3 linked regions of the Homo sapiens genome follow. The protein of the gene in region 1 purifies or fractionates together with the protein of each later gene. This does not show direct contact. Each region holds a gene or a part of one and is shown in the gene's direction. Other genes may lie near its edges.

What was found.
Region 2: the proteins of DLK2 (region 1) and SLC7A2 purify together in Homo sapiens (affinity purification with mass spectrometry; 2 studies listed by BioGRID and IntAct, with this or other methods). This does not show direct contact.
Region 3: the proteins of DLK2 (region 1) and VEZT purify together in Homo sapiens (affinity purification with mass spectrometry; 2 studies listed by BioGRID and IntAct, with this or other methods). This does not show direct contact.

What each region holds. Positions count from the first base shown.
Region 1 is NC_000006.12:43,452,527-43,459,631, reverse strand, and holds the start of DLK2 (protein delta homolog 2 isoform a precursor), read left to right. Parts: upstream 1-4,083; 5' UTR 4,084-4,237; exon of another isoform or gene 4,238-4,527; coding exon of another isoform or gene 4,528-4,806; coding exon 4,807-4,882; intron 4,883-5,051; exon of another isoform or gene 5,052-5,157; coding exon 5,158-5,221; exon of another isoform or gene 5,222-6,458; coding exon of another isoform or gene 6,459-6,496; coding exon 6,497-6,627; intron 6,628-7,105. UniProt on the Homo sapiens protein: Regulates adipogenesis.
Region 2 is NC_000008.11:17,492,441-17,500,099, forward strand, and holds the start of SLC7A2 (cationic amino acid transporter 2), read left to right. Parts: upstream 1-4,647; 5' UTR 4,648-4,797; intron 4,798-7,659. UniProt on the Homo sapiens protein: Functions as a permease involved in the transport of the cationic amino acids (L-arginine, L-lysine, L-ornithine and L-homoarginine); the affinity for its substrates differs between isoforms created by alternative splicing.
Region 3 is NC_000012.12:95,213,967-95,220,818, forward strand, and holds the start of VEZT (vezatin), read left to right. Parts: upstream 1-3,840; 5' UTR 3,841-3,884; coding exon 3,885-3,920; exon of another isoform or gene 3,921-4,379; intron 4,380-6,852. Other genes in the region: FGD6 (FYVE, RhoGEF and PH domain-containing protein 6), read right to left, coding at 3,259-3,274. UniProt on the Homo sapiens protein: Plays a pivotal role in the establishment of adherens junctions and their maintenance in adult life.

The sequences.
Region 1 (7,105 bases):
AATTTATTTTTCATGACTTCTTTGACTCAGTCACTCATCAATTCAGACTTGATCATAAGGAAGGAGCCTAAAACATGGGGAAAAAACCTACCTTCATAAAAATGTGTGGCACTAATAAATATTATCTGGGAGCTGTATCCTCAGTGGCTCTGGTATCTAATGGTAATATATGACTACTCAATATTTGTTGAATGAATTTATAATGACAAAAAAAGTAAACAACCTAAGCAGCCAATAACTAGGGCTAAGTAAAGTAAATATAGTATATCTATTTAATGGAATATCACATAGCCATAAAAAATGCTTTTGAGAACTATCAATATATGACATGGAGTAAAAAAAAGCAGGATACAATACTGTAGGTACATTATGATTATACCTCTGTAAAAATATCTGAATGGAAAAAAGGAATCAAAACAACAATAATTGTGGTTTTCTCAAGCTAGTAGGATTGTGGGTGGTTTTTTTCCTTTCCTTTTCTTTGAGATGGAGTCTTGCTCTTGTTGCCCAGGCTAGAGTGCAGTGGCATGATCTAGGCTCACCGCAACCTCTGCCTCCCAGGTGCAAGCGATTCTCCTGCCTCAGCCTCTCAAGTAGCTGGGATTAAAGGCAGGTGCCACCACGCCCGGCTAATTTTGTATTTTTAGTAGAGACAGGTTTTCTCCATGGTGGTGAGGCTGGTCTCGAACTCCTGACCTCAGGTGATCTGCCTGCCTTGGCCTCCCAAAGTGCTGGATTTACAGGCGTGAGCCACCGCGCCCAGCCAGTTTGCTTTCTTTTTTTTTTTTTTTTTGAGACGGAGTCTCGCTCTGTCACCCAGGCTGGAGTGCAGTGGTGCTATCTCGGCTCACTGCAAGCTCCGCCCCCTGGGTTCATGCCATTCTCCTGCCTCAGCCTCCCGAGTAGCTGGGACTACAGGCGCCTGCCACCACACCCAGCTAATTTTTTGTATTTTTAGTAGAGACGGGGCTTCACCGTGTTAGCCAGGATGGTCTCGATCTCCTGACCTCATGATCCTCTCACCTCAGCCTCCCAAAGTGTTGGGATTACAGGCGTGAGCCACCGCACCTGGCCTTTTTCTTTTTACTTTATTCTAAAAAAATGTTAGGCTGGGCACGGTGACTCATGCCTGTAACCCTAGCACTTTGGGAGGCCAAGGCCGGTGGACCACTTGGGGTCACTTCGAGACTAGCCGGGCCAACATGGCGAAACCCCGTCTCTACTGAAAATGCAAAAATTAACTGGGCAGGCCGAGGGCAGTGGCTCACGCCTGTGATCCCAGCACTTTGGGAGGCCAAGCGGGCAGATGACCTGAGGTCAGGAGTTGTAAACCAGCCTGGCCAACATGGCGAAACCCTGTCTCCACTACAAATACAAAAATTAGCCTGGCTTGGTGGGGGCGCGCCTGTAATCCCAGCTACTCGGGAGGCTGAGGCAGAAGAATTGCTTGAACCCGGGAGGCGGAGGTTGCAGTGAGCCAAGATGGAGCCATTGCACTTCAGCCTGGGTGACAGAGCGAGACCCTGTCTCAAAAAAAAAAAAAAAAAAAAAGAGTTAATTAAACAAACAGAATTTTAAAAAAATTTATTGAATACCTACTATGCCAGGCATTGTTTTAGACACTGGGGATGCTGTGATGAGCAAGAAAACATCCCAGACCTCTGGAGTTTGCTTTGTAGTGGGGAGATGGTCAATAAACAATAAATATTTAATATAATGTCAGATAATGATATCTGACAGAGAAAAGCACTGAAAGTCTCGAGAAAAAAAAATTAGCTGGGCGTGGTGGCGCTGTGCCTGCAATTCCAGCTATACTGGAGGCTGAGACGAGGTTGTACTGAGCTGAGGTTGCACTACTGCACTCCAGCCTGGGCGACAGAGTGATAATCTCAAGGAAAAACAAACAAACAACAACAAAAAACAAGTTATAGATGTTCATTGTTTAAAAAAAAAAAAAAAGGGGCGGGCGCGGTGGCTCACGCCTGTAATCCCAGCACTTTGGGAGGTCGAGGCGGGCGGATCACGAGGTCAGGAAATCAAGACCATCCTGGCTACCATGGTGAAACCCCGTCTTTACTAAAAATACAAAAAAAAATTAGCCGGGCGGGGTGGTGGGCGCCTGTAGTCCCAGCTACTTGGGACGTTGAGGCAGGAGAATGGCGTGAACCTGGGAGGCGGAGCTTGCAGAGAGCCGAGATAGCGCCACTGCACTCCAGCTTGGGCCACAAAGCGAGACTCCGTCTCAAAAAAAAAAAAAAAAAAAAAAAAAAAAGTGTTAATGCTGAAAAGTATTAATAAGAAAAAAAAAAAAACCTCTATAATTCGATCATCCAGAGAAAAGCACTGCCAATGTCAAAGTACGTTCTTCTTTGTTTCCGGCTTCCCCCCACCGCACTTTACATATTCTTAGCTTTTTTGGACATCTTTAGACGTCAAAAAAAAAAAAAAGTATTTTTAACAGTCACATAGTGTTGATGTGCCATAATTTATTTGCCTACAGTAATTTTTGAATTATAGGTTGTTTGCAATTTTTCACCAAAAAAAAAAATGTGTTTAAACAAAATGAATGGTACAGCCATGTCATTACTCAAATTCAGAGAGCTCTTCAGGGAAGAGGCGATCACAGCTGAGAGGAGGCCAGCTAGGGAGCTGAGTGGGTGTAAGTGTTATATCCAATGGAGACTGCAGGAAAAATGAGCCCTGGGGCTCTGTGCCTGTGGAGGTGGCTGTGTGAAGGTGGGAAGCTGCTCTGCCCCGACTAGCGACTGCTCCTTCCGATGTTTTGAATTTAAAGATGGTGAAATCTCAATCTGAAGGACTAGAGATGGGCGCTAGCGTTCCTGACCTCTGCCCTGTTGTCCTGCACAAACTAGAAATTATGTTCTGGGTCCTTGTCTTTTTTTGGGGGGGGGCGGGGGTCGGAGTTTTGCTCTGTCCCCCAAGCTGGAGTGCAGTGGCGCGATCTTGGCTAACTGCAACGTCTGCCTCCCGGGTTTTCAAGCGATTTTCCTGCCTCAGCCTTCCGAGTAGCTGGGATTACAGGCGCGCACCACCACGCCTGGCTAATTTCTGTATTTTTAATAGAGACGGGTTTCACCATGTTGGCCAGGCTGGTCTCGAACTCCTGACCTCAGGTGATCCGCCCGCCTCAGCCTCCCAAAGTGCTGGAATTATAGGCGTGAGCCCACCGAGCTTGGCTGGGTCCTTGTCTTGAAATGTGTCTCTGAGCCATTAGCCAGAAGGGGGCAAAGAGGCCTGGAGGGCAGCTTTCCCCCACTCCCCCTCCGTTACTCTCTGAATCTGAGCTCCAGGTTTGGGCAGTTGAGGTTTAGCCTGAGGCCAAGGACGAACGTGATGGGGTACAGGAGAAGACTTGGCGGTGGAGGGGGTTTTGTGTGCACATTTACAGAGTCAGGGGCATTCCCAGTCCAGAAAGGATTCTCAGAGGCAGTCACAAAAAGGAATGGGGTGGAAGGGCTGAGACTTGAGGGAGGGAAGGGTGGTGGGGGTAGGGCCGGGGTGTGGTTGGGTGGATCGGGTTGATATTTATATAGGGATAGGTTGATCTTGGAAGGCTGGAGACGGCAACGTGGACAGGAAGAAGCGGAGGGCGAGGAGGAGCAGAGGAGCACACAGATGAAGCAGGTGATGAAGGCTTTACAAGCGGGGAGGCGTGGGCTGGTGACAGGCGGAGGGCGGGGAGCGATTGCCTGCGTGTGCATAGATCTATATGAGAAGCGTGATGAGCGGCGGACAAGCGAAGGCAGGGCTGGGGCGTGGGCCGCGGAGCGCTGGTCGGGAAAGTGGGCATGGGAGATGAGAGAATAACGGGGTTGCGCTCCTTTGGCTTAATAGTTTGCTCCCATTGAGACTCCTAAGATTTCCTCCTCTCTTGGAAGGAAGCTGGGTTCGGGGCGTTGGGTAGCCGCGGAGGGCCGGGGCCCCGGGGCGCGCCGGGTGCTAGGTGTGCGCCGTGCGTCGCGGGGGGGGGGATGGGGGTGGGGGCGGGCTCCGCCCCTGGCAGGGGGCCTGAGCGCGCGCGAGGAGCAGCCGCTGCCGCCGCTCGGGGTCGCCTGGAGCCCCAGATTCCCGAGCGCTCGGCTCGCATGGCAGCCGCTTCGGCGCCCGGCCCCGCGGCCAGCTAGGGGCGGCCCCGCGCTCCCTCACGGCCCCTCGGCGGCGCCCGTCGGATCCGGCCTCTCTCTGCGCCCCGGGGCGCGCCACCTCCCCGCCGGAGGTGAGGACTGCGGGGACAGGGCGCGGTGGGGATTCCAGGCCCCGCGCCGCCGCCGAACCCAGCGCGGCGGAGATAGAAAGGGGACGTGGGAGAGAGTGGTGGTGGCGGGGGGGGGGGCTGTCGGAGCTGTGGGGCGGAGACTGCTCGCTGCCGGGAACCGTCCTTCCCTCCGGCCCCCGCGTCCCCTCCGTGCTCGAGGCCGCCTCTCGGCGCTGTCCCCATCCCGCGGACCCCTCCGTCCTGACTACGATCCCAACCCCAGCCATTCCCGCGCCTGGCCTCGCTCCGCGATGCCCATCTTTCCCCTCCTTGCAGACCCCGCTCCCGGGTTCCTGTCTTCGCTCTCCTCGCTCTCTTCGCCTGCTCAACCCTTCCCTGCCCCCATCCTCCCGCTACCCCCATCCCCTTCTTCTGTCCCGGCGCCCCTCTCCCTCGTCGGCTCCTGTCACTTGGAACCCGTATCCGTGCCGCTATCTCCGCGTCCGGCCGCCTCCCAACCGGTGCCGTCCCACAGGTGTCCACGCGTCCGGCCGTCCATCCGTCCGTCCCTCCTGGGGCCGGCGCTGACCATGCCCAGCGGCTGCCGCTGCCTGCATCTCGTGTGCCTGTTGTGCATTCTGGGGGCTCCCGGTCAGCCTGTCCGAGGTGAGCGCGCCCGCTGGGCTCCAGTCGCGGCCCTGTCCAGCCGTCCTCGCTTGCACGTTGACCTCTGCCGGCCGGAGGCGGCACTGCAGTCGCTCCGACCCGCGGGGCAAGCAAGACCGAGGTTGCCTTTTTGGAATGGGATGAGTTTCTGTGTTATGTCCTGCCCTAGGGTTGAGTCCGCTCAGTTACTGGAACCCCAATCCTCTCCTGAGTCCCGCATCCCAGCGAGCTGTGCCCTGACTCAGACTCACCCCTCCCACATCAATCTCTTGCAGCCGATGACTGCAGCTCCCACTGTGACCTGGCCCACGGCTGCTGTGCACCTGACGGCTCCTGCAGGTACCTGTCCTGAGCACGTGCCCCCAAACCCTTTGGTACCCATTTCTAAGCCCTTCACGTGCACAACAGTGTCTAGGGGCTTCAGACTCTACTCTTCATGCCTCATCACTCCTATGGCTGACTGGCCAGTCCCCCTTTCCCCTTTACCTCACCTCTCTTGCTTCTTCTAGTTTTTATCTCCCCACTTCTTTAATCTCCCAAGTCTGATCCAGGGATTGTCTGAACTCCTGACAGGGAGAGAGACCTAAAGCTTGAGAGAGCTTGGGGATTGGGTGCCATGAGGAAATGGAAAGATAAAGGAAAAAGGGAAAGAGAAATGGTTTAGCCTGGAAAAGAAATGCTGCAGGGAGAGTTGCTGGGGAGAAACACTTACAATGAAAGAGGATCTTTCTTGATGAGTTTGAGTAGTTGACTCACTGGGAGATTGGGCAAATTCTGTAGCAGGAGGAAAGTGGACATAAGGAAATGAGTTGATGAGGCAGGTAGTTCAATTGGCTGGGGGTCTTTGAGACTCTTCACCCCTGGAGGGCTTTTAAAATATGGGTCAAGTGTTTGCCCTGGAATCATGGTGGGAGGATAGTCCTGATGACCTTTTTTGTTTTTATTTTTATTTTTTGTTTTTGAGACAGAGTCTCGCTTTGTTGCCAAGGCTGGAGTGCAGTGGCGCGATCTCAGCTCACTGCAGCCTCTGCCTCTTGTGTTCAAGTTCCCCTGCCTCAGCCTCCTCAATAATGGATTACAGATGCACACCACCATGCCCGGGTAATTTTTTGTATTTTTTGTAGAGACGGGGTTTCACCCAGTTGGCCAGGCTGGTCTTGAACTCCTGACCTCAAGTGATCCACCTGCCTCGACCTCCCAAAGTGCTGGGATTACAGGCGTGAGCAACCACGCCCCGGCCCTGATGGCCTTTCAAGGTCATTCTTCTTTAAATGTTTGTGAGCACCTCAGACATGCCAGGAGGGGTACTGGAGGCATTTACAGACATCTTATTTCTTCCTCTACTCAACCCTGCAAGGTGTATCCCCAATTTACAGGTGAGAAAACTGAGGCTCAGGTTAAAGTACAGAACCAGGGTTTGAGTGCTGGTGTCTGATGGTCTGATTCCGTATATGTGTCCTATGACCCTGCACAGTCCTACACCTACCTGGGACAGGTCTGCTTTCCCTTAGGGGCTGTCATATGTCCTCTTGGTTTCTAGAAGCTCTGGTTCTGTCTCCTCCATTTCTTCACATCCATGACCCAGAGCCCTGACCCTGTGCTTCTCCCCGTCAGGTGTGACCCGGGCTGGGAGGGGCTGCACTGTGAGCGCTGTGTGAGGATGCCTGGCTGCCAGCACGGTACCTGCCACCAGCCATGGCAGTGCATCTGCCACAGTGGCTGGGCAGGCAAGTTCTGTGACAAAGGTAGGGGGGAGGAAGGGTAGCTTTTGGTTGGGAACCCCATGTTCTTAGGGGAACAGCCATCAGTATTTATTGAGTGCCTATTTTGTCCTTGTCAAACCCTCAAATACATGGTATTTTATCATTTTTTTAAATCTTAGACTTTTTATATGTTGTCTGAATTGATCCTCAACATAACCCCATGGGGCAGGAAACACAGCTGCTAAAAATTGTACTCATTTTACAGATGAGGAAACTAAGGCCCACAGAAGAGCTATAACCTGCTCAAAGTCAGGTTTTTTTGTTTGTTTTGTTTTGAGATGGAGTCTCACTCTGTCACCCAGGCTGGAGTGCAGTGGTGCGATCTCGGCTCACTGTAACCTCCGCCTCCTGGGTTCAAGTGATTCTCGTGCCTCAGCCTCCCCAGTAGCTGGAATTACAGGCACCCGCCACTTCAGCTAATTTTTGTATTTTTAGTAGAGATAGGGTTTCACCATGTTGG
Region 2 (7,659 bases), on another chromosome or scaffold:
AAAAGGGGATTACCCCCTTACCCCCTCCTTTTTTTTTTTTTAGAGGCGGAGTCTCTCTCTTTCGCCCAGGCTGGAGTGCAGTGGCACGTTCTCTGTCGTTCTCTGCCCCAGCATGATGAGTGGTTTCTAATTTTTTTCTTTTGTAGAAAAGGAGGTAAAAATTACTCTCTCAGCCGGGTATGGAGGCTCACGCCTGTAATCCCAGCACTTTGGGAGGCCGAGGCGGGCAGATCACGAGGTCAGGAGATCGAGACCATCCTGGCTAACACGGTGAAACCCTGTCTGTACTAAAAATACAAAAAATTAGCCGGACGTGGTGGCCCGTGCCTGTAATACCAGCTATTCGGGAGGCTGAGACAGGAGAATCGCTTGAACCCAGGAGGCAGAGATTGCAGTGAGTTGAGAGTGCACCACTGCACTCCAGCCTGGGTGACAGAATGAGACTCCGTCTCAAAAAAAAAAAAAAAAAAAAAAGCATAACAACCTAGATTGTGAAGATTGATGGAGTTAAGAATGATTCAATAATTTAATCTTAAGAGTGCCTTAGTTAGCAAGCAAGACAAAAGGTTATTCAGGATAGTAGGAGGAAAACTAAGAGACCGTGGAAGCCAAGGAGGAGATAGTTTCGAGAAAGAAAGAAAGCAGGAGCGAGTTTGAGGCACAAGAGAACTGCGAAAGGTCCATTGCATATGATTAGGAAGAGATTTCTGGAGCAATTAGGACCCTCATCAAGGTTAAAGAAAAGAGAGGATTTAGATTATCTGAGCTCCCTCCTAAATCCCTGGTTTTCAGTCCTTAGAGCAACAGGCTAACTGATGTTTAGATTAAGAAAACTGACTTTTTCCAGCAGATAAGAGGCCCAGCAGGAATCCTGGCAGAAGGAATTAGAGACTAGCACGGGGCGGGTGGAGCTCAGGGCCATTCCTGATGAATGGCCAATGTAAAGAAACCCCAGAAAGACACCAAGTGACAGGAGGCAGGGAAATTTGTAGGAAGAGCAATGTAGAATGAAAATCATTGCAAAACGGTGATTTGGTCTTAGTTGAAAGACAAGTAGAAGAAGATGAATTTGAAAGACGACTTGTCATTTATATGGACTTGTTGTATTTTTTTTCCAACCATTTTTTCAATATTTTGTTGCTTGCCTTAAGGGATGGGCAGATATGGACTCTGTCCAGTGGAAAGTCACCTCTAGGTTTTTACACATTTTTGAAAGGCGAGTGGAGAACAGCGGTGGCCTGAAAGCTCTTAAAACTAGTGCTCTGGGTCGGGGCGGTGGCTCACGCCTTTAATCCCAGCACTTTGGGAGGTCGAGGTGGGCGGGATCACCTGACGTCAGGAGTTTGAGACCAGCCTGGGCAACGTGGTAAAACCCCGTCTCTACTGAAAATACAAAAAAATTAGCCAGGCGTGGTGGTGAGCGCCTGTAATCTCAGCTACTCCGGAGGCTGAGGCAGGAGAATCGCTTGAATCCGGGAGGCAGAGGTTGCTGTGATCTGAGATCGTGCCCTTGCACTCCAGCCTGGTGACAGAGGGAAACTCCGTCTCAAAAAACAAACAAATAGCTAGTGCTCTGACTCTGGTCCAACTCTTTTTCCCTTTTGAGTTGATTCAGTGACAGCACAAGCATTAGTATCCAGTATCCAACCATCTGAAAAAAATTGGAGGATTTTAGCTTGTCTTCGCTAAAATAGTTTGGGGAATAATAGAGTCACAAATTAGAACTAGTAAGAATCCATTCCTTCAGTCTTGCTAGTTGAAGTAAATCCCTTATTTGTGGACATGAGATTTACTTTAGGTTGTATTTGGCAAGTGTGGGAGTACAGGGTGTGGAATTTATTCAGCTACAAAAGTCCCTTAAAATTCCCCGCAATTTCATAAACCCTTAAGAGTTCAGACATGCAAGAATGTTTGTGAAATCTTTGGAAGATGACAACCTAGGCTACTCTCTCTGCTGAAAATGACTAAGTTGGATTTTCTGCTTCATTCCTAAGGAGGAAACTTGACGGCTGAAAGTGAAAAGTGATGGCAATAAACCAGGGAGCGTGAAATAGAAGGTGGGTGCAAATTTTACTCAACTGGGAAAAAGATGCTAATTCAACCCCGGGCAGCAAGAGAAAATGCAAATGAAGATGAAGTCAAAAGAGCTTAACCTGTTTCAAATATTTCATTTCTAAAAATTCGATTCTATTTTCTCTTGTCTCATAGTCTGTCTTAAGAGACTCATACTAAATCCGTGGGCATCCTATTCTTTCCTCATCTAAACACATTTTTAAAGGTGAGAAATAACCAAAGTTATGAGGCAGGATTCAGGGTTAATCAATAATTTCAAACACGAAATGGAATATGTTAAGTCAAGAACTAGTGTGTAAAGATATTCAGCAATCTTGTTAGAAAGTTGTTTGAAAGAATTTGCTCTTTTTTTGCTTAGAGATGAAGTTGTTGTTCTTATTCACACACATGAACACAGCACGTTCTTGCTTCAGGAAGTGCGCCGGCGGGCAGATTGGATAAATTCAAAGATCGGTATTCTGACAAAATTGGCAGTTTCCAAATTCCAGATAAATTTGTTTATCCCAAATCATTGTGTTGTAACTTAATCACAAATTAAACAGATTTAAACACAGAGCCTTTAAGTAAAAATATGTGGGGAAATAATTGCTTAAGTTTAAAAATAGGAATCTCTATTTTTTTATTTTTTCTTTCTTTATTTTAATCAATGTTGACCAGGTTGGCCTCGAACGTGTAGCCTCGCCTCCTCGAGTGCCAGGGCAACCGCCCTGAGCCACCGCGACTCCCAGGAATCTCTATTTTTTTTAAACCAGGTGAAAAATGTTAGACCAGATTACTCACCCTTAAAAATTAGACAAAGTATCTGAGTCATCGCTCCCTTGAACAACGCCTCCTAGCCGTGGGATTGAGGAGGAATCTGGTGTTAAAAGTCCACACGCATCATTTCCCTTAATGTTATTAATGATAATTTGCATAAGGAATCTTTTTTTGACTGTAAAAATAAGTTTACTTTGACAGTCTCTATTACTTAAGACATTTGGTCTATCAGATAATATCTTCGTAATCATAGTGCTGTTTAAACTTTCAGTTTTTTTGTTCGTTTGCTTTTGTTTTTGAGACGGAATCTCACTCTGTCGCCCAGGCTGGACTGTAGTGGCACTATCTCGGCTCACTGCAACCTCCGCCTCCTGGGCTCAAGCGATTCTCCTGCCTCAACCTCCCGAGTAGCTGGGGTTACAGGCGCCCGCCGCCGCGCCCGGCTAATTTTTGTATTTTTAGTAGAGACGGAGTTTCACCCTGTTGGCCAGACTGGTCTCGAACTCCTGACCTCAGGTGATCGGCGCGCCTCGGCGTCCCAAAGTGCTGGGATTACAGGCGTGAGCCACCACCCCCAGCCTACACTTTCACTTTTTGATGAAATCCATGGATGGCTTCCTGAGATACATTGAGATTTTGTGTGTGTGCTATCTTCTGGAATGAAGCCCCACACCGTTTATTAGATGATCTTGGGGATATATGTCTTGAAGGGAAGAATGATTTAGAATATCACATTAAAATTGTATATGTACTGTGAGGCAGCAATACAAATCTGGCACTTTGCCAAAGTTATTACTAGTAGGTGGGTTAAAGGGACGTTTACTCCAATACTATGCAAAGTAAAGTGGACCTTTCTGTCAAACAAAAATAGTAATAGGCCGGGCATGGTGGCTCAAGCCTGTAATTCTCAGCCTGGTGGCTCAAGCCTGTAGTTGTCAGCACTTTGGGAGGCTGAGGCGGGAGGATAGCTTGAGCCCAGGAGGTCGAGGCTGCAGTGAGCCACGATTGTGTCACTGCCCTCCAGCCTGGGCGACAGAGTGAGACCCTGTCTCTAAAGACAAACCACACACACATATACACACACACACTGACACACACTTATTGTTCAATTCAGTGCGTGTTTTGCTTCGTTTTGGATGAAAATTAACAGGCTTTCACATTGTGACTTAATCTTATCAGAGACTCCTAAAGTAAACAATAGCGCAGTAGGAGAAACCCTGATTGTGTAACTTCTGCTCTTGCTCCCCTGGAAATAATGTCATTTCCTATAAACCCACCCCCAAACAATCGTGACTACGTATTCATACCACTGGAGTCTTCCAAAATAGCAACTGCACATTATTTATCAACGTTTAGTTTGCATTTGACAAAGCACATCCACCTGGGCTTCCATTTATCATTGCTATTATTATATTTTATTATTATTTTCTTATTTCCAAAATCTTTGTAGAATGGAAAGTAAACGGGGGGACCAAAACCCCACTTAGAACTCTGCTTAGAAGATTCGGAAATGCCCTTGAGGTTTGGTCCTCCCAGGAGAGCACGAAGTTTATCCTCGCGCGCAGCCTCTCTTCCCCGGCCCGCGCCCACCGGCCTAGCCCGGGGCTAGCGCCCGCCCACGTGTGCTCGGCTCCAGGCAAACCCCGCTGAGCAGCGGCCGCACACCGCCCACCCCGGGGATTGGTCAGCGCGGCCGGGGCCCGGCGGGAGGCGGGCTCGGGGTCGCGTTCCGGGAGCGCGGAGGAGGCGGTGCCGCCCGGCCCCGCGCCCCGCCCCCGCCCCGGGTGGCTACACAGAGGGGCGCCCACGTGCCCAGCCCTCCTTCTGCAGCGCGGCCGGCGGGCGCTCCTCTTCGCGGGACCAGCGAGGCGGCGGCCGCTGCTCCAGCGTCCCCCAGCCGCGGGCCCCCGACGCGCTGCAGCCGGCAGCCCACCGCCGCCTTCTTGGCGCGACCCCAACCCAGCCCCAGTAAGTTGCTAGGTCTCCAGCCCCGCCGAGAGGCCGCGGGCGAGGGGCAGCCCGGACGCTGGGGCCGGCGGGGAAGGAGCGGGGCGAGGGCGCCCTGGGGCCGGCGGGGAACTAGAGGGTCGAGGGCTCCCGGGGACGAGTCCAGCTGCGCGCAGCTGCCCTGAGGCCGCGCTCCAGCGAGTCTTCGTCAGGGAGTCGGGGCCGTGGGCTGGGGCTGAAGCCGTGGACCTTCGTCCTCGGGGCTGCGCCCCGGAATGCGCCTCGCCTCGTCCGGTCCCTGTGCAGCCGGCTCTGCCCGGGGACTTCGGGGACCGCTGGAACTGGGAGAGGGGCTGGCACGGCGACTTCGCGGGGACCCTTCAGTCACTATTTCCAGAGGAGCTCGGCGCACCCCTCTCCGGGTGGGCAGGCTGAACCTCCTGGCCCTGCACGCTGCCGGGGTCCCCGAAGCCGCCTTCGCTCCTTTTCGGTTCTTGGCTTAAATTAGAAAGCCGGCTTGGAGCGCTGGAAGCCCCTTCACATTCTGCAGGGGACCTGGTAAAATAGCCCGTCTTGGTGTTTGTATTGGGTATTTTAAAGTAACTGGGTGCCTTTTAAAATCCGTTTGAGATGGGCTGTATTTTATAAGCCCGTTTCATGAAACGCTGTTCTTGAGGCTTAGAGAATCTCCCAACCCATCACCCCAGAGTACCTGTCCGTTCAGAAAGTACCTTTTCATCCTCTTTTGACGCTTACATCCAGTCTATGGAGTAAGGTATTGAGAGATTGTCATCTTCAACTCGTCGAAAAGAAATATGCTCAGCAAAAGCCACAATCATATGTGGCTTTTGAAGTGGATATAGTGCCTGGATTTCAAGAGAAAAAGTACTCAGCCTCTTCAGAGTTGTAAATATTTGTGCAAAACTGGCTAAAGCCTTTAGGTGACTAATTTTGGACCAGTAATAAGATTTATCTAGACGTTTGTGCAGAAACACTAATCCTTTTAATGAGAGGATATCGTCAGATCTTATTCAAATAAGAGCTCTCTGAATCCCATCCAGGGCCGCCTGGGTTATAAAATTAGAATGTATGTGGCCTTGACTTGATACTTTTTCATTCTTGCCTGAGCTAGTCTTTAAAAGTTAATAATTATCTCCTCCGGAAGGTGAAACATTCTGTGTTTGTAATCTTTCTCTAGGAGATGTATAAGATGTGAATATTCTGTATTATGTACCTTGTTAGGATTGCTTTGTAATTAGTAAATCCTTTTTTATTTTAATTGCACTGAAGCGTGACATGAAATGATCTCTCAGTGCAGAACACAGGACTTCTTCCCTCTCCTTTTCCTACAAAGTTGCTAGTTGCCTGCTCTGGGAGGCCACTTTATTGTGATTTTTCAAGTTTCTTCCCTCGGCCCACACTTTGTTTACATTCTGTGCCTTCATCTGGGAATGGTCATTTACCTTAAGGCATTTTAATCTTTTAGGGTGTGCCATGGCCTTGGAGACCAGAGTAAAGCGCTGTGGTATCTGCGGGGATCAGTTTGCAGAATCCTTGGCCTCCTAAGCAGTGGGCATAGCTCTTTTCATTCCAGAATCTCTGATCATTCCAGAGTCTCTCCTGTCACTGGGCTTAGGAGCCTGGGAAGGCGAATAGAAGCTAGCTGGGGAGACAGGGGAGCTGTGGCAGTTTAAAAAGCCTGATCTTGCGCTGGAGTTTTTCATCTTGCATTCTCATGTATCTTTGCCTTTTGAACACATGTGCCTGAAGAATTTTAAAGTTCACGTTTCTTGCTTTGCACTGCAAGCACACTCACCTTTGCAGAGTGGAAGTGCCTTGTCCCCATTCTAGGTGGTCTACCTTCTGTTCTCTTTTCAGACCTCCTGGCTTAAGCCCTTGTTTCTCCTGGCTGTTATGGCCAGACCCGGAGTCCCCGTTGTGCCCATTTCTTCTCTTTTCAGTCCTTCCTTTTCAAATGTTTTTTCCCAGAAGTCCTCTGGCAACTTCTCTATTTCACCTAGCCTCTGTCTTCTCTTGTTTTATTTTTCCCTCTCTCCCTCCCTCTCTATCCCTCTTTCCCCCTCTTTCCCTCCTTCTCCCTCCTTTCTCTCTTCCTCTCTCTCTGTCTCTCTCTCTCTCTCCCCCTCTCTCCCTCATTTCTCTCTCCCTCTCTCTGTCCCTCTTCCCTCCATTCTCTCTCCCCCCTTCTCTCTCTGTGTGTTCAGAGCCATCTGCTGGTTTTACTTTGGTGCCCTTTGGTGGACAACTTTCAGAACAGAATCTTGGGAGCACCTTCATGTTGCTGTTTGCTTTATTTCCCCCAAACATGTAGATATGAACACACTGATTTTAAAGACTCTTATAGACTACCTACTAGATGCCAAACATTTAGAACAAAAGCAAAAGCTTTCAGTGGAATATATTTCTAAATACTCACATATTTAGTTTTGGGTGCATCATTTGAATGCTTTGTCATCCAAATGAATCCTGAAAAACTTAGTTAACTAAGATTTCACTTAAGTGATAGCACTTGTCTAAATGGGCTTGAAAATCGAAGCTGTTAATTAATTTCTAAAACTTTAATCTGGATATTAAAAACCATATAGATACAACCTTGAATGACAACAGAAAACTAATGGAATTGTTCTTGTCATTGTCTTCCATTTTAATAACTTTTCATTTTAGTACCTAATATAGTATGTGTCACATAACACATGCTTATATGTCTTTATTGTTGAGTGAATGCCACTGATTTCAACAGTTTGAGAAAAGATGTTTTATCTGTCTTCAAATGTATTTATTCCTTCATTGAAAACTTACTTTCTACTCTGTACACTGGAAAATCAAAAAAGTAATGTGTAACTCCGGTTTTAGAGGGATTCT
Region 3 (6,852 bases), on another chromosome or scaffold:
TTCCTTCCTTATAAATGGGGGAGTTGAACAGGCCTCTAAAGCCCATAGGAATCTGAGATGATAACTTCTGAGACACTCATTTCAGAAGAACCTCATGTACTGTGGCCTCTGTCTCCTGCGTTGATGTTTTTTCAGTTCACCTTTGTCTGTGTTCAGCATAAGACACAAGCTCCAGAAGGGCAGGCACTTTGTCTCATTCACTGATGTATCCCAGTGCTAACAACAGGGCCTGGGAATAATCACAGCTGCCACATACACATACTCTTTAATATGTCTCCATAACAGAAAATTTCTTCTTTAAAAATAATCACATTCAAAAATGTACATCCATTTTAATGTAGAATAATATTTTGAAAAGTTAGCAGGAATCAATTTCAATACGATTATTGAAAAATTCCTTAATTATTAATAGGAACAAGTGTTCAACTAAGTCACTGGTAGAGCAATATCCAAAATCCTTCATTATTTTTTTTTCATGGCTCTATTTTGGAAGAAACACAACTCAAAAAATAATAAGCCATTATATTATGGTCTACTCCAATGTGAAATAAGTGCATGACATTTGGCAATAAATCTAGCACCTTTGGATCTTAATACTGCATCAACAGTCAGACCCAAAGCTTCTTAGAGCAAAGCAGCAAATCTTTTATTTACACAGCTGTTTGGCTCCAGGGAAATATAAGGTAAGAAAGTAAAGCACTAGTACCATTTTACTAACTATTACAAACATACTCGTCATCTGTTACACACAGATGGCTGTGGTTCACGTGTACACTCTCTGGCTACTGGACCAGCCAAAACGCAAAGCACAGACAATGAAGACAGTGACCTGTACATGTTCAAAAGGACACAAAATATATACCTATATATACCTATAATTCTCTCTCCTTTTTTCTTTTTTTTTTTTTTTTTTTGAGATGGAGTCTTGCTCTGTCACCCAGGCTAGAGTGCAGTGGCTCGATCTCGGCTCACCACAACCTCCGCCTCGCTGGCTCAAGCAATTTTCATATCAGCCTCCCGAATAGCTGGGACTACAGGCGCACCCCACCACACCTGGCTAATTTTTGTATTTTTAGTAGAGACAGGGTTTTGCCATGTTGGCCAGGCTGGTCTCAAACTCCTGACCTCAAGTGATCCACCCGCCTTGGCCTCCCAAAGTGATGGAATTACAGGCTTGAGCCACTGCGCCCAGCCTCTCCTTTTTCATATACAGCTTAAAATAATTCTGAAATCTCCACTAAGGGCAGATTATTTTATAGATGTAGAAAAACAAAGCAAGCTTTTCTGCTGGATACATATAACCTAGATGTTCTACAACATTCCTTTTATTTTCTTAAATTAAACCAACCCTTCCAAATACCACAGATTAGATTCAAAAGCAAAAATCCCCTCCCTTAACTTCAAGTAACTTTCCTAAACGTTTCAATGAATTTGACTATTGTTCCCAAAAAGCACCATAATCAGCTTGTAAGAACTATGTATACATATAAGAATGGGTAGAAATAAAACCCCAGTTCTCTTCCATATTCCCCATCTAGACACCAGAAAGAATTATGATAAATCCAACAGATGGGTGAGCAAAAAAGTAGTTGATGCTTCTCAGCCAGCAATGCTAAAAACCAACCAACTCGGCTAGACACAGGAAGTGTCCCACTTTAAACACCACAAAAATTTCTGTGGATTTCTTTAATTGTAAAGTTGATAAAATACAAAAATAGCTTGCATTATTTTAGGATAATTCAAATGCAAGAATCATGAACTTCCAGTCTGGGCCCTAGAAATTGGGTTTACATAAATGTGAAATTACATGCTTCTGTGCCTGTTCCTTATAAACTGTTAAGACTGGAATTGAAAACTGATACATATAAGACACGGTTATTTTAAATACATTTGACACCTCCAAAAAGGAAAGAGCTAAAACTGGCTGGAAGGATTTTAAAATTTCCAACCACTTTTAATTTAAATCAATTTCTTGAACGAAGGTAAGGCACAGAAATGTAGGATGAAAATAATTTACCTTATGTAAGTATAAAGCCTCCCTTTGGCAAAGAAAAGAGAGTTTATAAAGATATCTCATATAAGTGCATATAACATCAAAAAGGAAAGACCCACACAACACCCACTTCTTGCTTTCTTTTCCTATTGGCTAACTTCTTGTTTCGTTTGTTGTAATCTGATCACAGGGAGCAATGCAACACTACAATATATCTAGGCTTTAGAAATAATACAAATCAGAACATTTGAGTGCTGTTGGACAGTTTCAAGTTGCAAGAATTTTAAACAAATGCCAAGAAAAGCAATGAAAATTTAATCTGATACTTAAGTGCTGATTCTGGAAGTAACCTTGAGAAGAAGCTTTAAACTATTTCACTATAAAATTTCTAATGAAAGTTTCAACGTGGACAAAAACGTAAAATAACCCATAACACTCTACTTAATACATAAGTTCTGGTTTAAAAATTAACCTATGTACTTACGAAGTGAACGTAACACCACTTTGGTAATTATTTTGTAAAACAGAAATTGTTCCTTAAGAATGTTCAGAAACACAACGTCTAGAATTGCTGAAAATCCACACAAAGATAGAGGCTTTGTCATTTGGATGAAGGGGAAAGAACTATGGGAGGCAGACAGAAAATAAAGCTTTGTTTACCCTAATCAGGTAGAAACAAACAAAATAATTGTAATTGGGTGCAGACAAGCAAAAAAAAAAAAAAAAAAAAAACCTCAACAATCTCAACTCCTCTGCTTCTCAGGTAACAGAGGTAAAACCACCAGGACATGACAATGTCTACGCCTCTTTAAAATGGGTAAAAGGTTTACCAGCAGATACAAGGTTGAAAGCGACTCACTTAGTGGCCAAATTGAACACGCTGAGAACACTGCCTTTACCTATAATAACTGATCTATTAACTTGGGAATCTACACTATTTTCACATGCAAAGGCGAAGTCCTCGCACTGCTGGAGAGATGAGCGAACGCCCTTCACACATCGCATTTCACCTGGTGCAGAGCCCCCAGCACAGTCCCCCTTGGAAGGGAGATCCCGAGAAATCCCGGGTTTCCAAACAGCCCCTCTGGGCAGGAAAAGACGAGAAAGCCGGCAGCGAATCCCATTAGCTCCGCGCTTGCCGAGGTGCTCGGCAAAGGTACGGGGCACACAACTCGCCCACCCCGGCGAAGAAAGTTGCTCGCGAGCCCAAGCCTAGCAGCGCTCGCCACAAACTTTCCCGCGGCAGCGCGAGCGCCGTCACTTACCGGCTGCAGAAGTCATGATTCCCCGGTGCAGCTCGCTTCCCCGCTCGGCCCCTCAATCCATCTTCCCCTTTCAGTCCATTGTTCCCACAGTTCGGGTAGGAGAGAAAAGCCCCCGCAGCGCCCACATTCCGTCCCGCCGCCCCGCGGCGCAGCCTGAGCGCCACACAAAGGACGCGGCCGACTCTAGCGACCCTGCGGCGCTCCCGGGCGCGAGCCGCCGGGGTCGGGCGGGCGAGCACTAGCACCGCCCCGCAGAGCGGCAGGCTGACAGCCAGGCGCGGGCACGAGCAGTGCTCTCTTCGGCTCCGCTGGCGCGTGCCCTTCTCGGGCTCCAAAAATCAGCAGTGCTCCGGGCGCCCCCTGCTAGTCGCGGCCGTAAAAGGCAGACAAAAGCCCTAGCCTCCTCCAATCGGAGGGCTCGAGCTTCAGCTCGCTCCCGCCTCTCTCGCTTACACGCTCACTCTCTTCTCCAATAAGCGGGCTCGAAAAGGGGGCGTGAGCGGCGAGGCATATTGGGAATTGTAGTTTTCTGGACCCACGGGACGGGCAGGAGCTGGAGCTCCGTGCCGCCTGTACTCCCGCCTTCATTTCCCATCGTGCTGAGGCGGGTGGCATGGCGGAGAAGGATGACACCGGAGTTTGACGAAGAGGTGGTTTTTGAGGTAAGAGGAAAATGGCGGTGGGTGTGGATTGCCTTTGTTTGAGAAGGACGAGACGGAAATCGAGGAAGCAAGGCGTTCCCGGGGCGAGGGATCGGGTGACGCGCTCCAGCTGGCCTCGACCACCGAACCCCAGCGATTTCAGGGCCTAGAGTCCGTCGTCGCCTGACAGGTGTAGCCAGAGGCGCCCTGGCCGTGGCCGGCCTCTATCTCGGGCCCGCCCAGAATTCCCAGACGGTGCCCGGTTGCCAGGCTCTGGGCTGGAGCGGTGTCTCTTCCTTCCTGGGAATGGATGTGCGGCGGGGGGGACTGCGCCCGGCTGGGGCGGGGCCGAATCGTGCCTTTTAGATAGTCACAACTTAGCCTCCTCCTTTTCCATCCGCGATTTTTTTGGGTCAGTATCCAGAGTGCTTCAGGTCACTGTTCACCGTCAAGGCGTGGCCCTCGGAATGAAGGCAGCAGGTGCCCGTTTTCTAACACGGTTTAAAGTCTATTTGTGGGACCTACTGTGGGTAGTTAGGGCCAGGGCATCTCAGCATCTAGATTCGATTCTTTTGTCCTTTGCTGTTGCGCTAGGTGTAGCCAGTTCTTCTGACTCGGGGCTCTAGATGTGAGTGCTTTTGTGTGGGACTATTTTAAGACGTTCTCTGCCATCTTGAATGAAAAAAATCGGGCGAGTGTTTTTGATGCCATTTTTTTCCATCAGACACAGGTCAAAACTCGCACCCCTGTACGTATGTGTATTGCATGTATACGCTTTACTTTCATTTATCCAACTAGATTTTAAGAAAATTTAAAAATGAAGTGGCCCATGCCATACAGCGAGAGAGCGAGGCACAGACAGGACAGAATGCTAAATGTTGAAATATGTACAAACTGTCATTGAAGGATTAATTTCTGTTCTTGCGGCCTCCCAGAGGCTACACCCAGTACGCGATATCCGAGGTGAATCTTTAACTATGAATTGGATTAGAAAAACCGGCAGGAGAAAATGTATTACAGGGAAAGAGAACTGATTATGCCAAGCTTGGGAAGTGTGAAAGTACCTGGTGTGCATTTTTAGGGGGCGGGGTGTGGAGGGTGGCTATGTAAAGTGGCTTGATGTGGCTGCAATGAAGAAGCAGTGGAAAATGTGGCCATTTTACCGAAGTGAAGAGTCTAGATATGAGGCGTTCATTAGGGAAGACAAGGGCCTGAGATGAAATGAGAGACGTAATGGAATAATGGCTTGGACAGACACTTGTAAGTTAAAATCGAGGCAATGTTTATAGATTGAATGTGGTAGCTGAAGGAGAGAGAAATATTTTCTAGAGTAAGGGTAACTGATGGGTGTATTTTTTTTACCCATTATTTTTGATTTCTGAATATAATAGTAATATATGCTCAAGGAACATTTTATTGTAGAAAATAAGCCCCCAAGTTAAAATCATCCATTATCCCACCACCCAAAGATGGTAACTATTAACAGTACGGTATGTGTTCTTATAGACTTTATTTCTATGTAAATGTGTGTTTATGTGTGTGTAATTTTTTAGCCTCTATATTAAGACACAATGTGTGTGTGATATTTTTTAAAACAAAAGGTATACCACGTAGAATTTTGTATATATTTTTCACTTGACTTTATCGTGAATCTTTTCCCATTCATCATTCTCTGAAAACATTAATATTATAATATCCCCTCACGTGTATCATAATATAACCTTTTTTTAAAAAAATACCATTGTAATCAACAGTGATATAAGCCTATTTTTAACTACAACTCTGATTTTCCTCAGAATAATTTTTAGAAGTAGAACTAGTGGGTGAAAGAATATGAACATTTAAGACTTACGCAGAAAGGTTATACCAATTCCGGTTTCCATTAAGAATAAGAGAGTATTGGTTTCACCAAATCCTCAACAACAGCCTTAACAGTTTCCTTTAATCTTTGCTAATTTGATAGGCAAAAATAACATTCCATTGTTTTAATTTACATTTTATGCATTTATACATTTATTAGCTATTTTTATTTCTTTGAACATTTCTCTTCATATTTGTTGCTCATTTTCTTATTAGATGCTAGCTTTAAAAAAATTGACTTGCGTGAGTTCTTCATATATTACTAAGCCTTTGTCATACTTGCAGAAAAATTTCCAGTTTGCTGTTTGTTTGCTCTTTGATATACACAATTTTTATTGCAGTATAATTTACATAAGGACAGGGCACAGATCACAAGTGTGTGGATGGTTATATTTTCACATGTTGAGCACACCCATGTAACCAGCACCCAGATCAAGAAACGGGACAGATGGGGCATGGTGGCTCACACCTGTAATCTCAGCACTTTGGGAGGCTGAGGCAGATGGATCCCTTGAACCCAGGAGTTTGAGATTAGCCTGGACAACATGGTGAAACCCTATCTCTACAAAAAAGACAAAAATTATTTGGGCGTGGTGGCACATGCCTATAGTCCCAGCTACTCGGGAGGCTGAGGTGGGAGAATCACTTGAGCCTGGGTAGGTCAAGGCTGCAGTGAGCCATGATCGCACCGCTGTACTCCAGCCTGGATGACAGAGCCAGACTCTGCCCCAAAAAAATAAAAAATGAAAAAAGAAACAACATCACCAGCACACCAGAAGCTCCCTCCTGGTCCTTTCCATCACTACTCCCTACCCCAAAATGATCACTATTTAAACATAATAACCTAGATTAATTTTGTCTATTTTTATTGTTTAGACACTGTGCATTTCCATTTATATACTCTCTTATTTCTGACTTTTTTTTTTCCTCTCTGGCTTTATTTGTGAGATTCGTCCATATTGTTAACATGAGAATTTTTATTTTGGCATAGTATTCCATGTGAATATATGATCATTTTTAAATTCATTCTTCTATTAATGGTCATTGAGTAGTTCCCAGGTTTAAACTAGTGCTACTGTGAACCTTTTTGTAT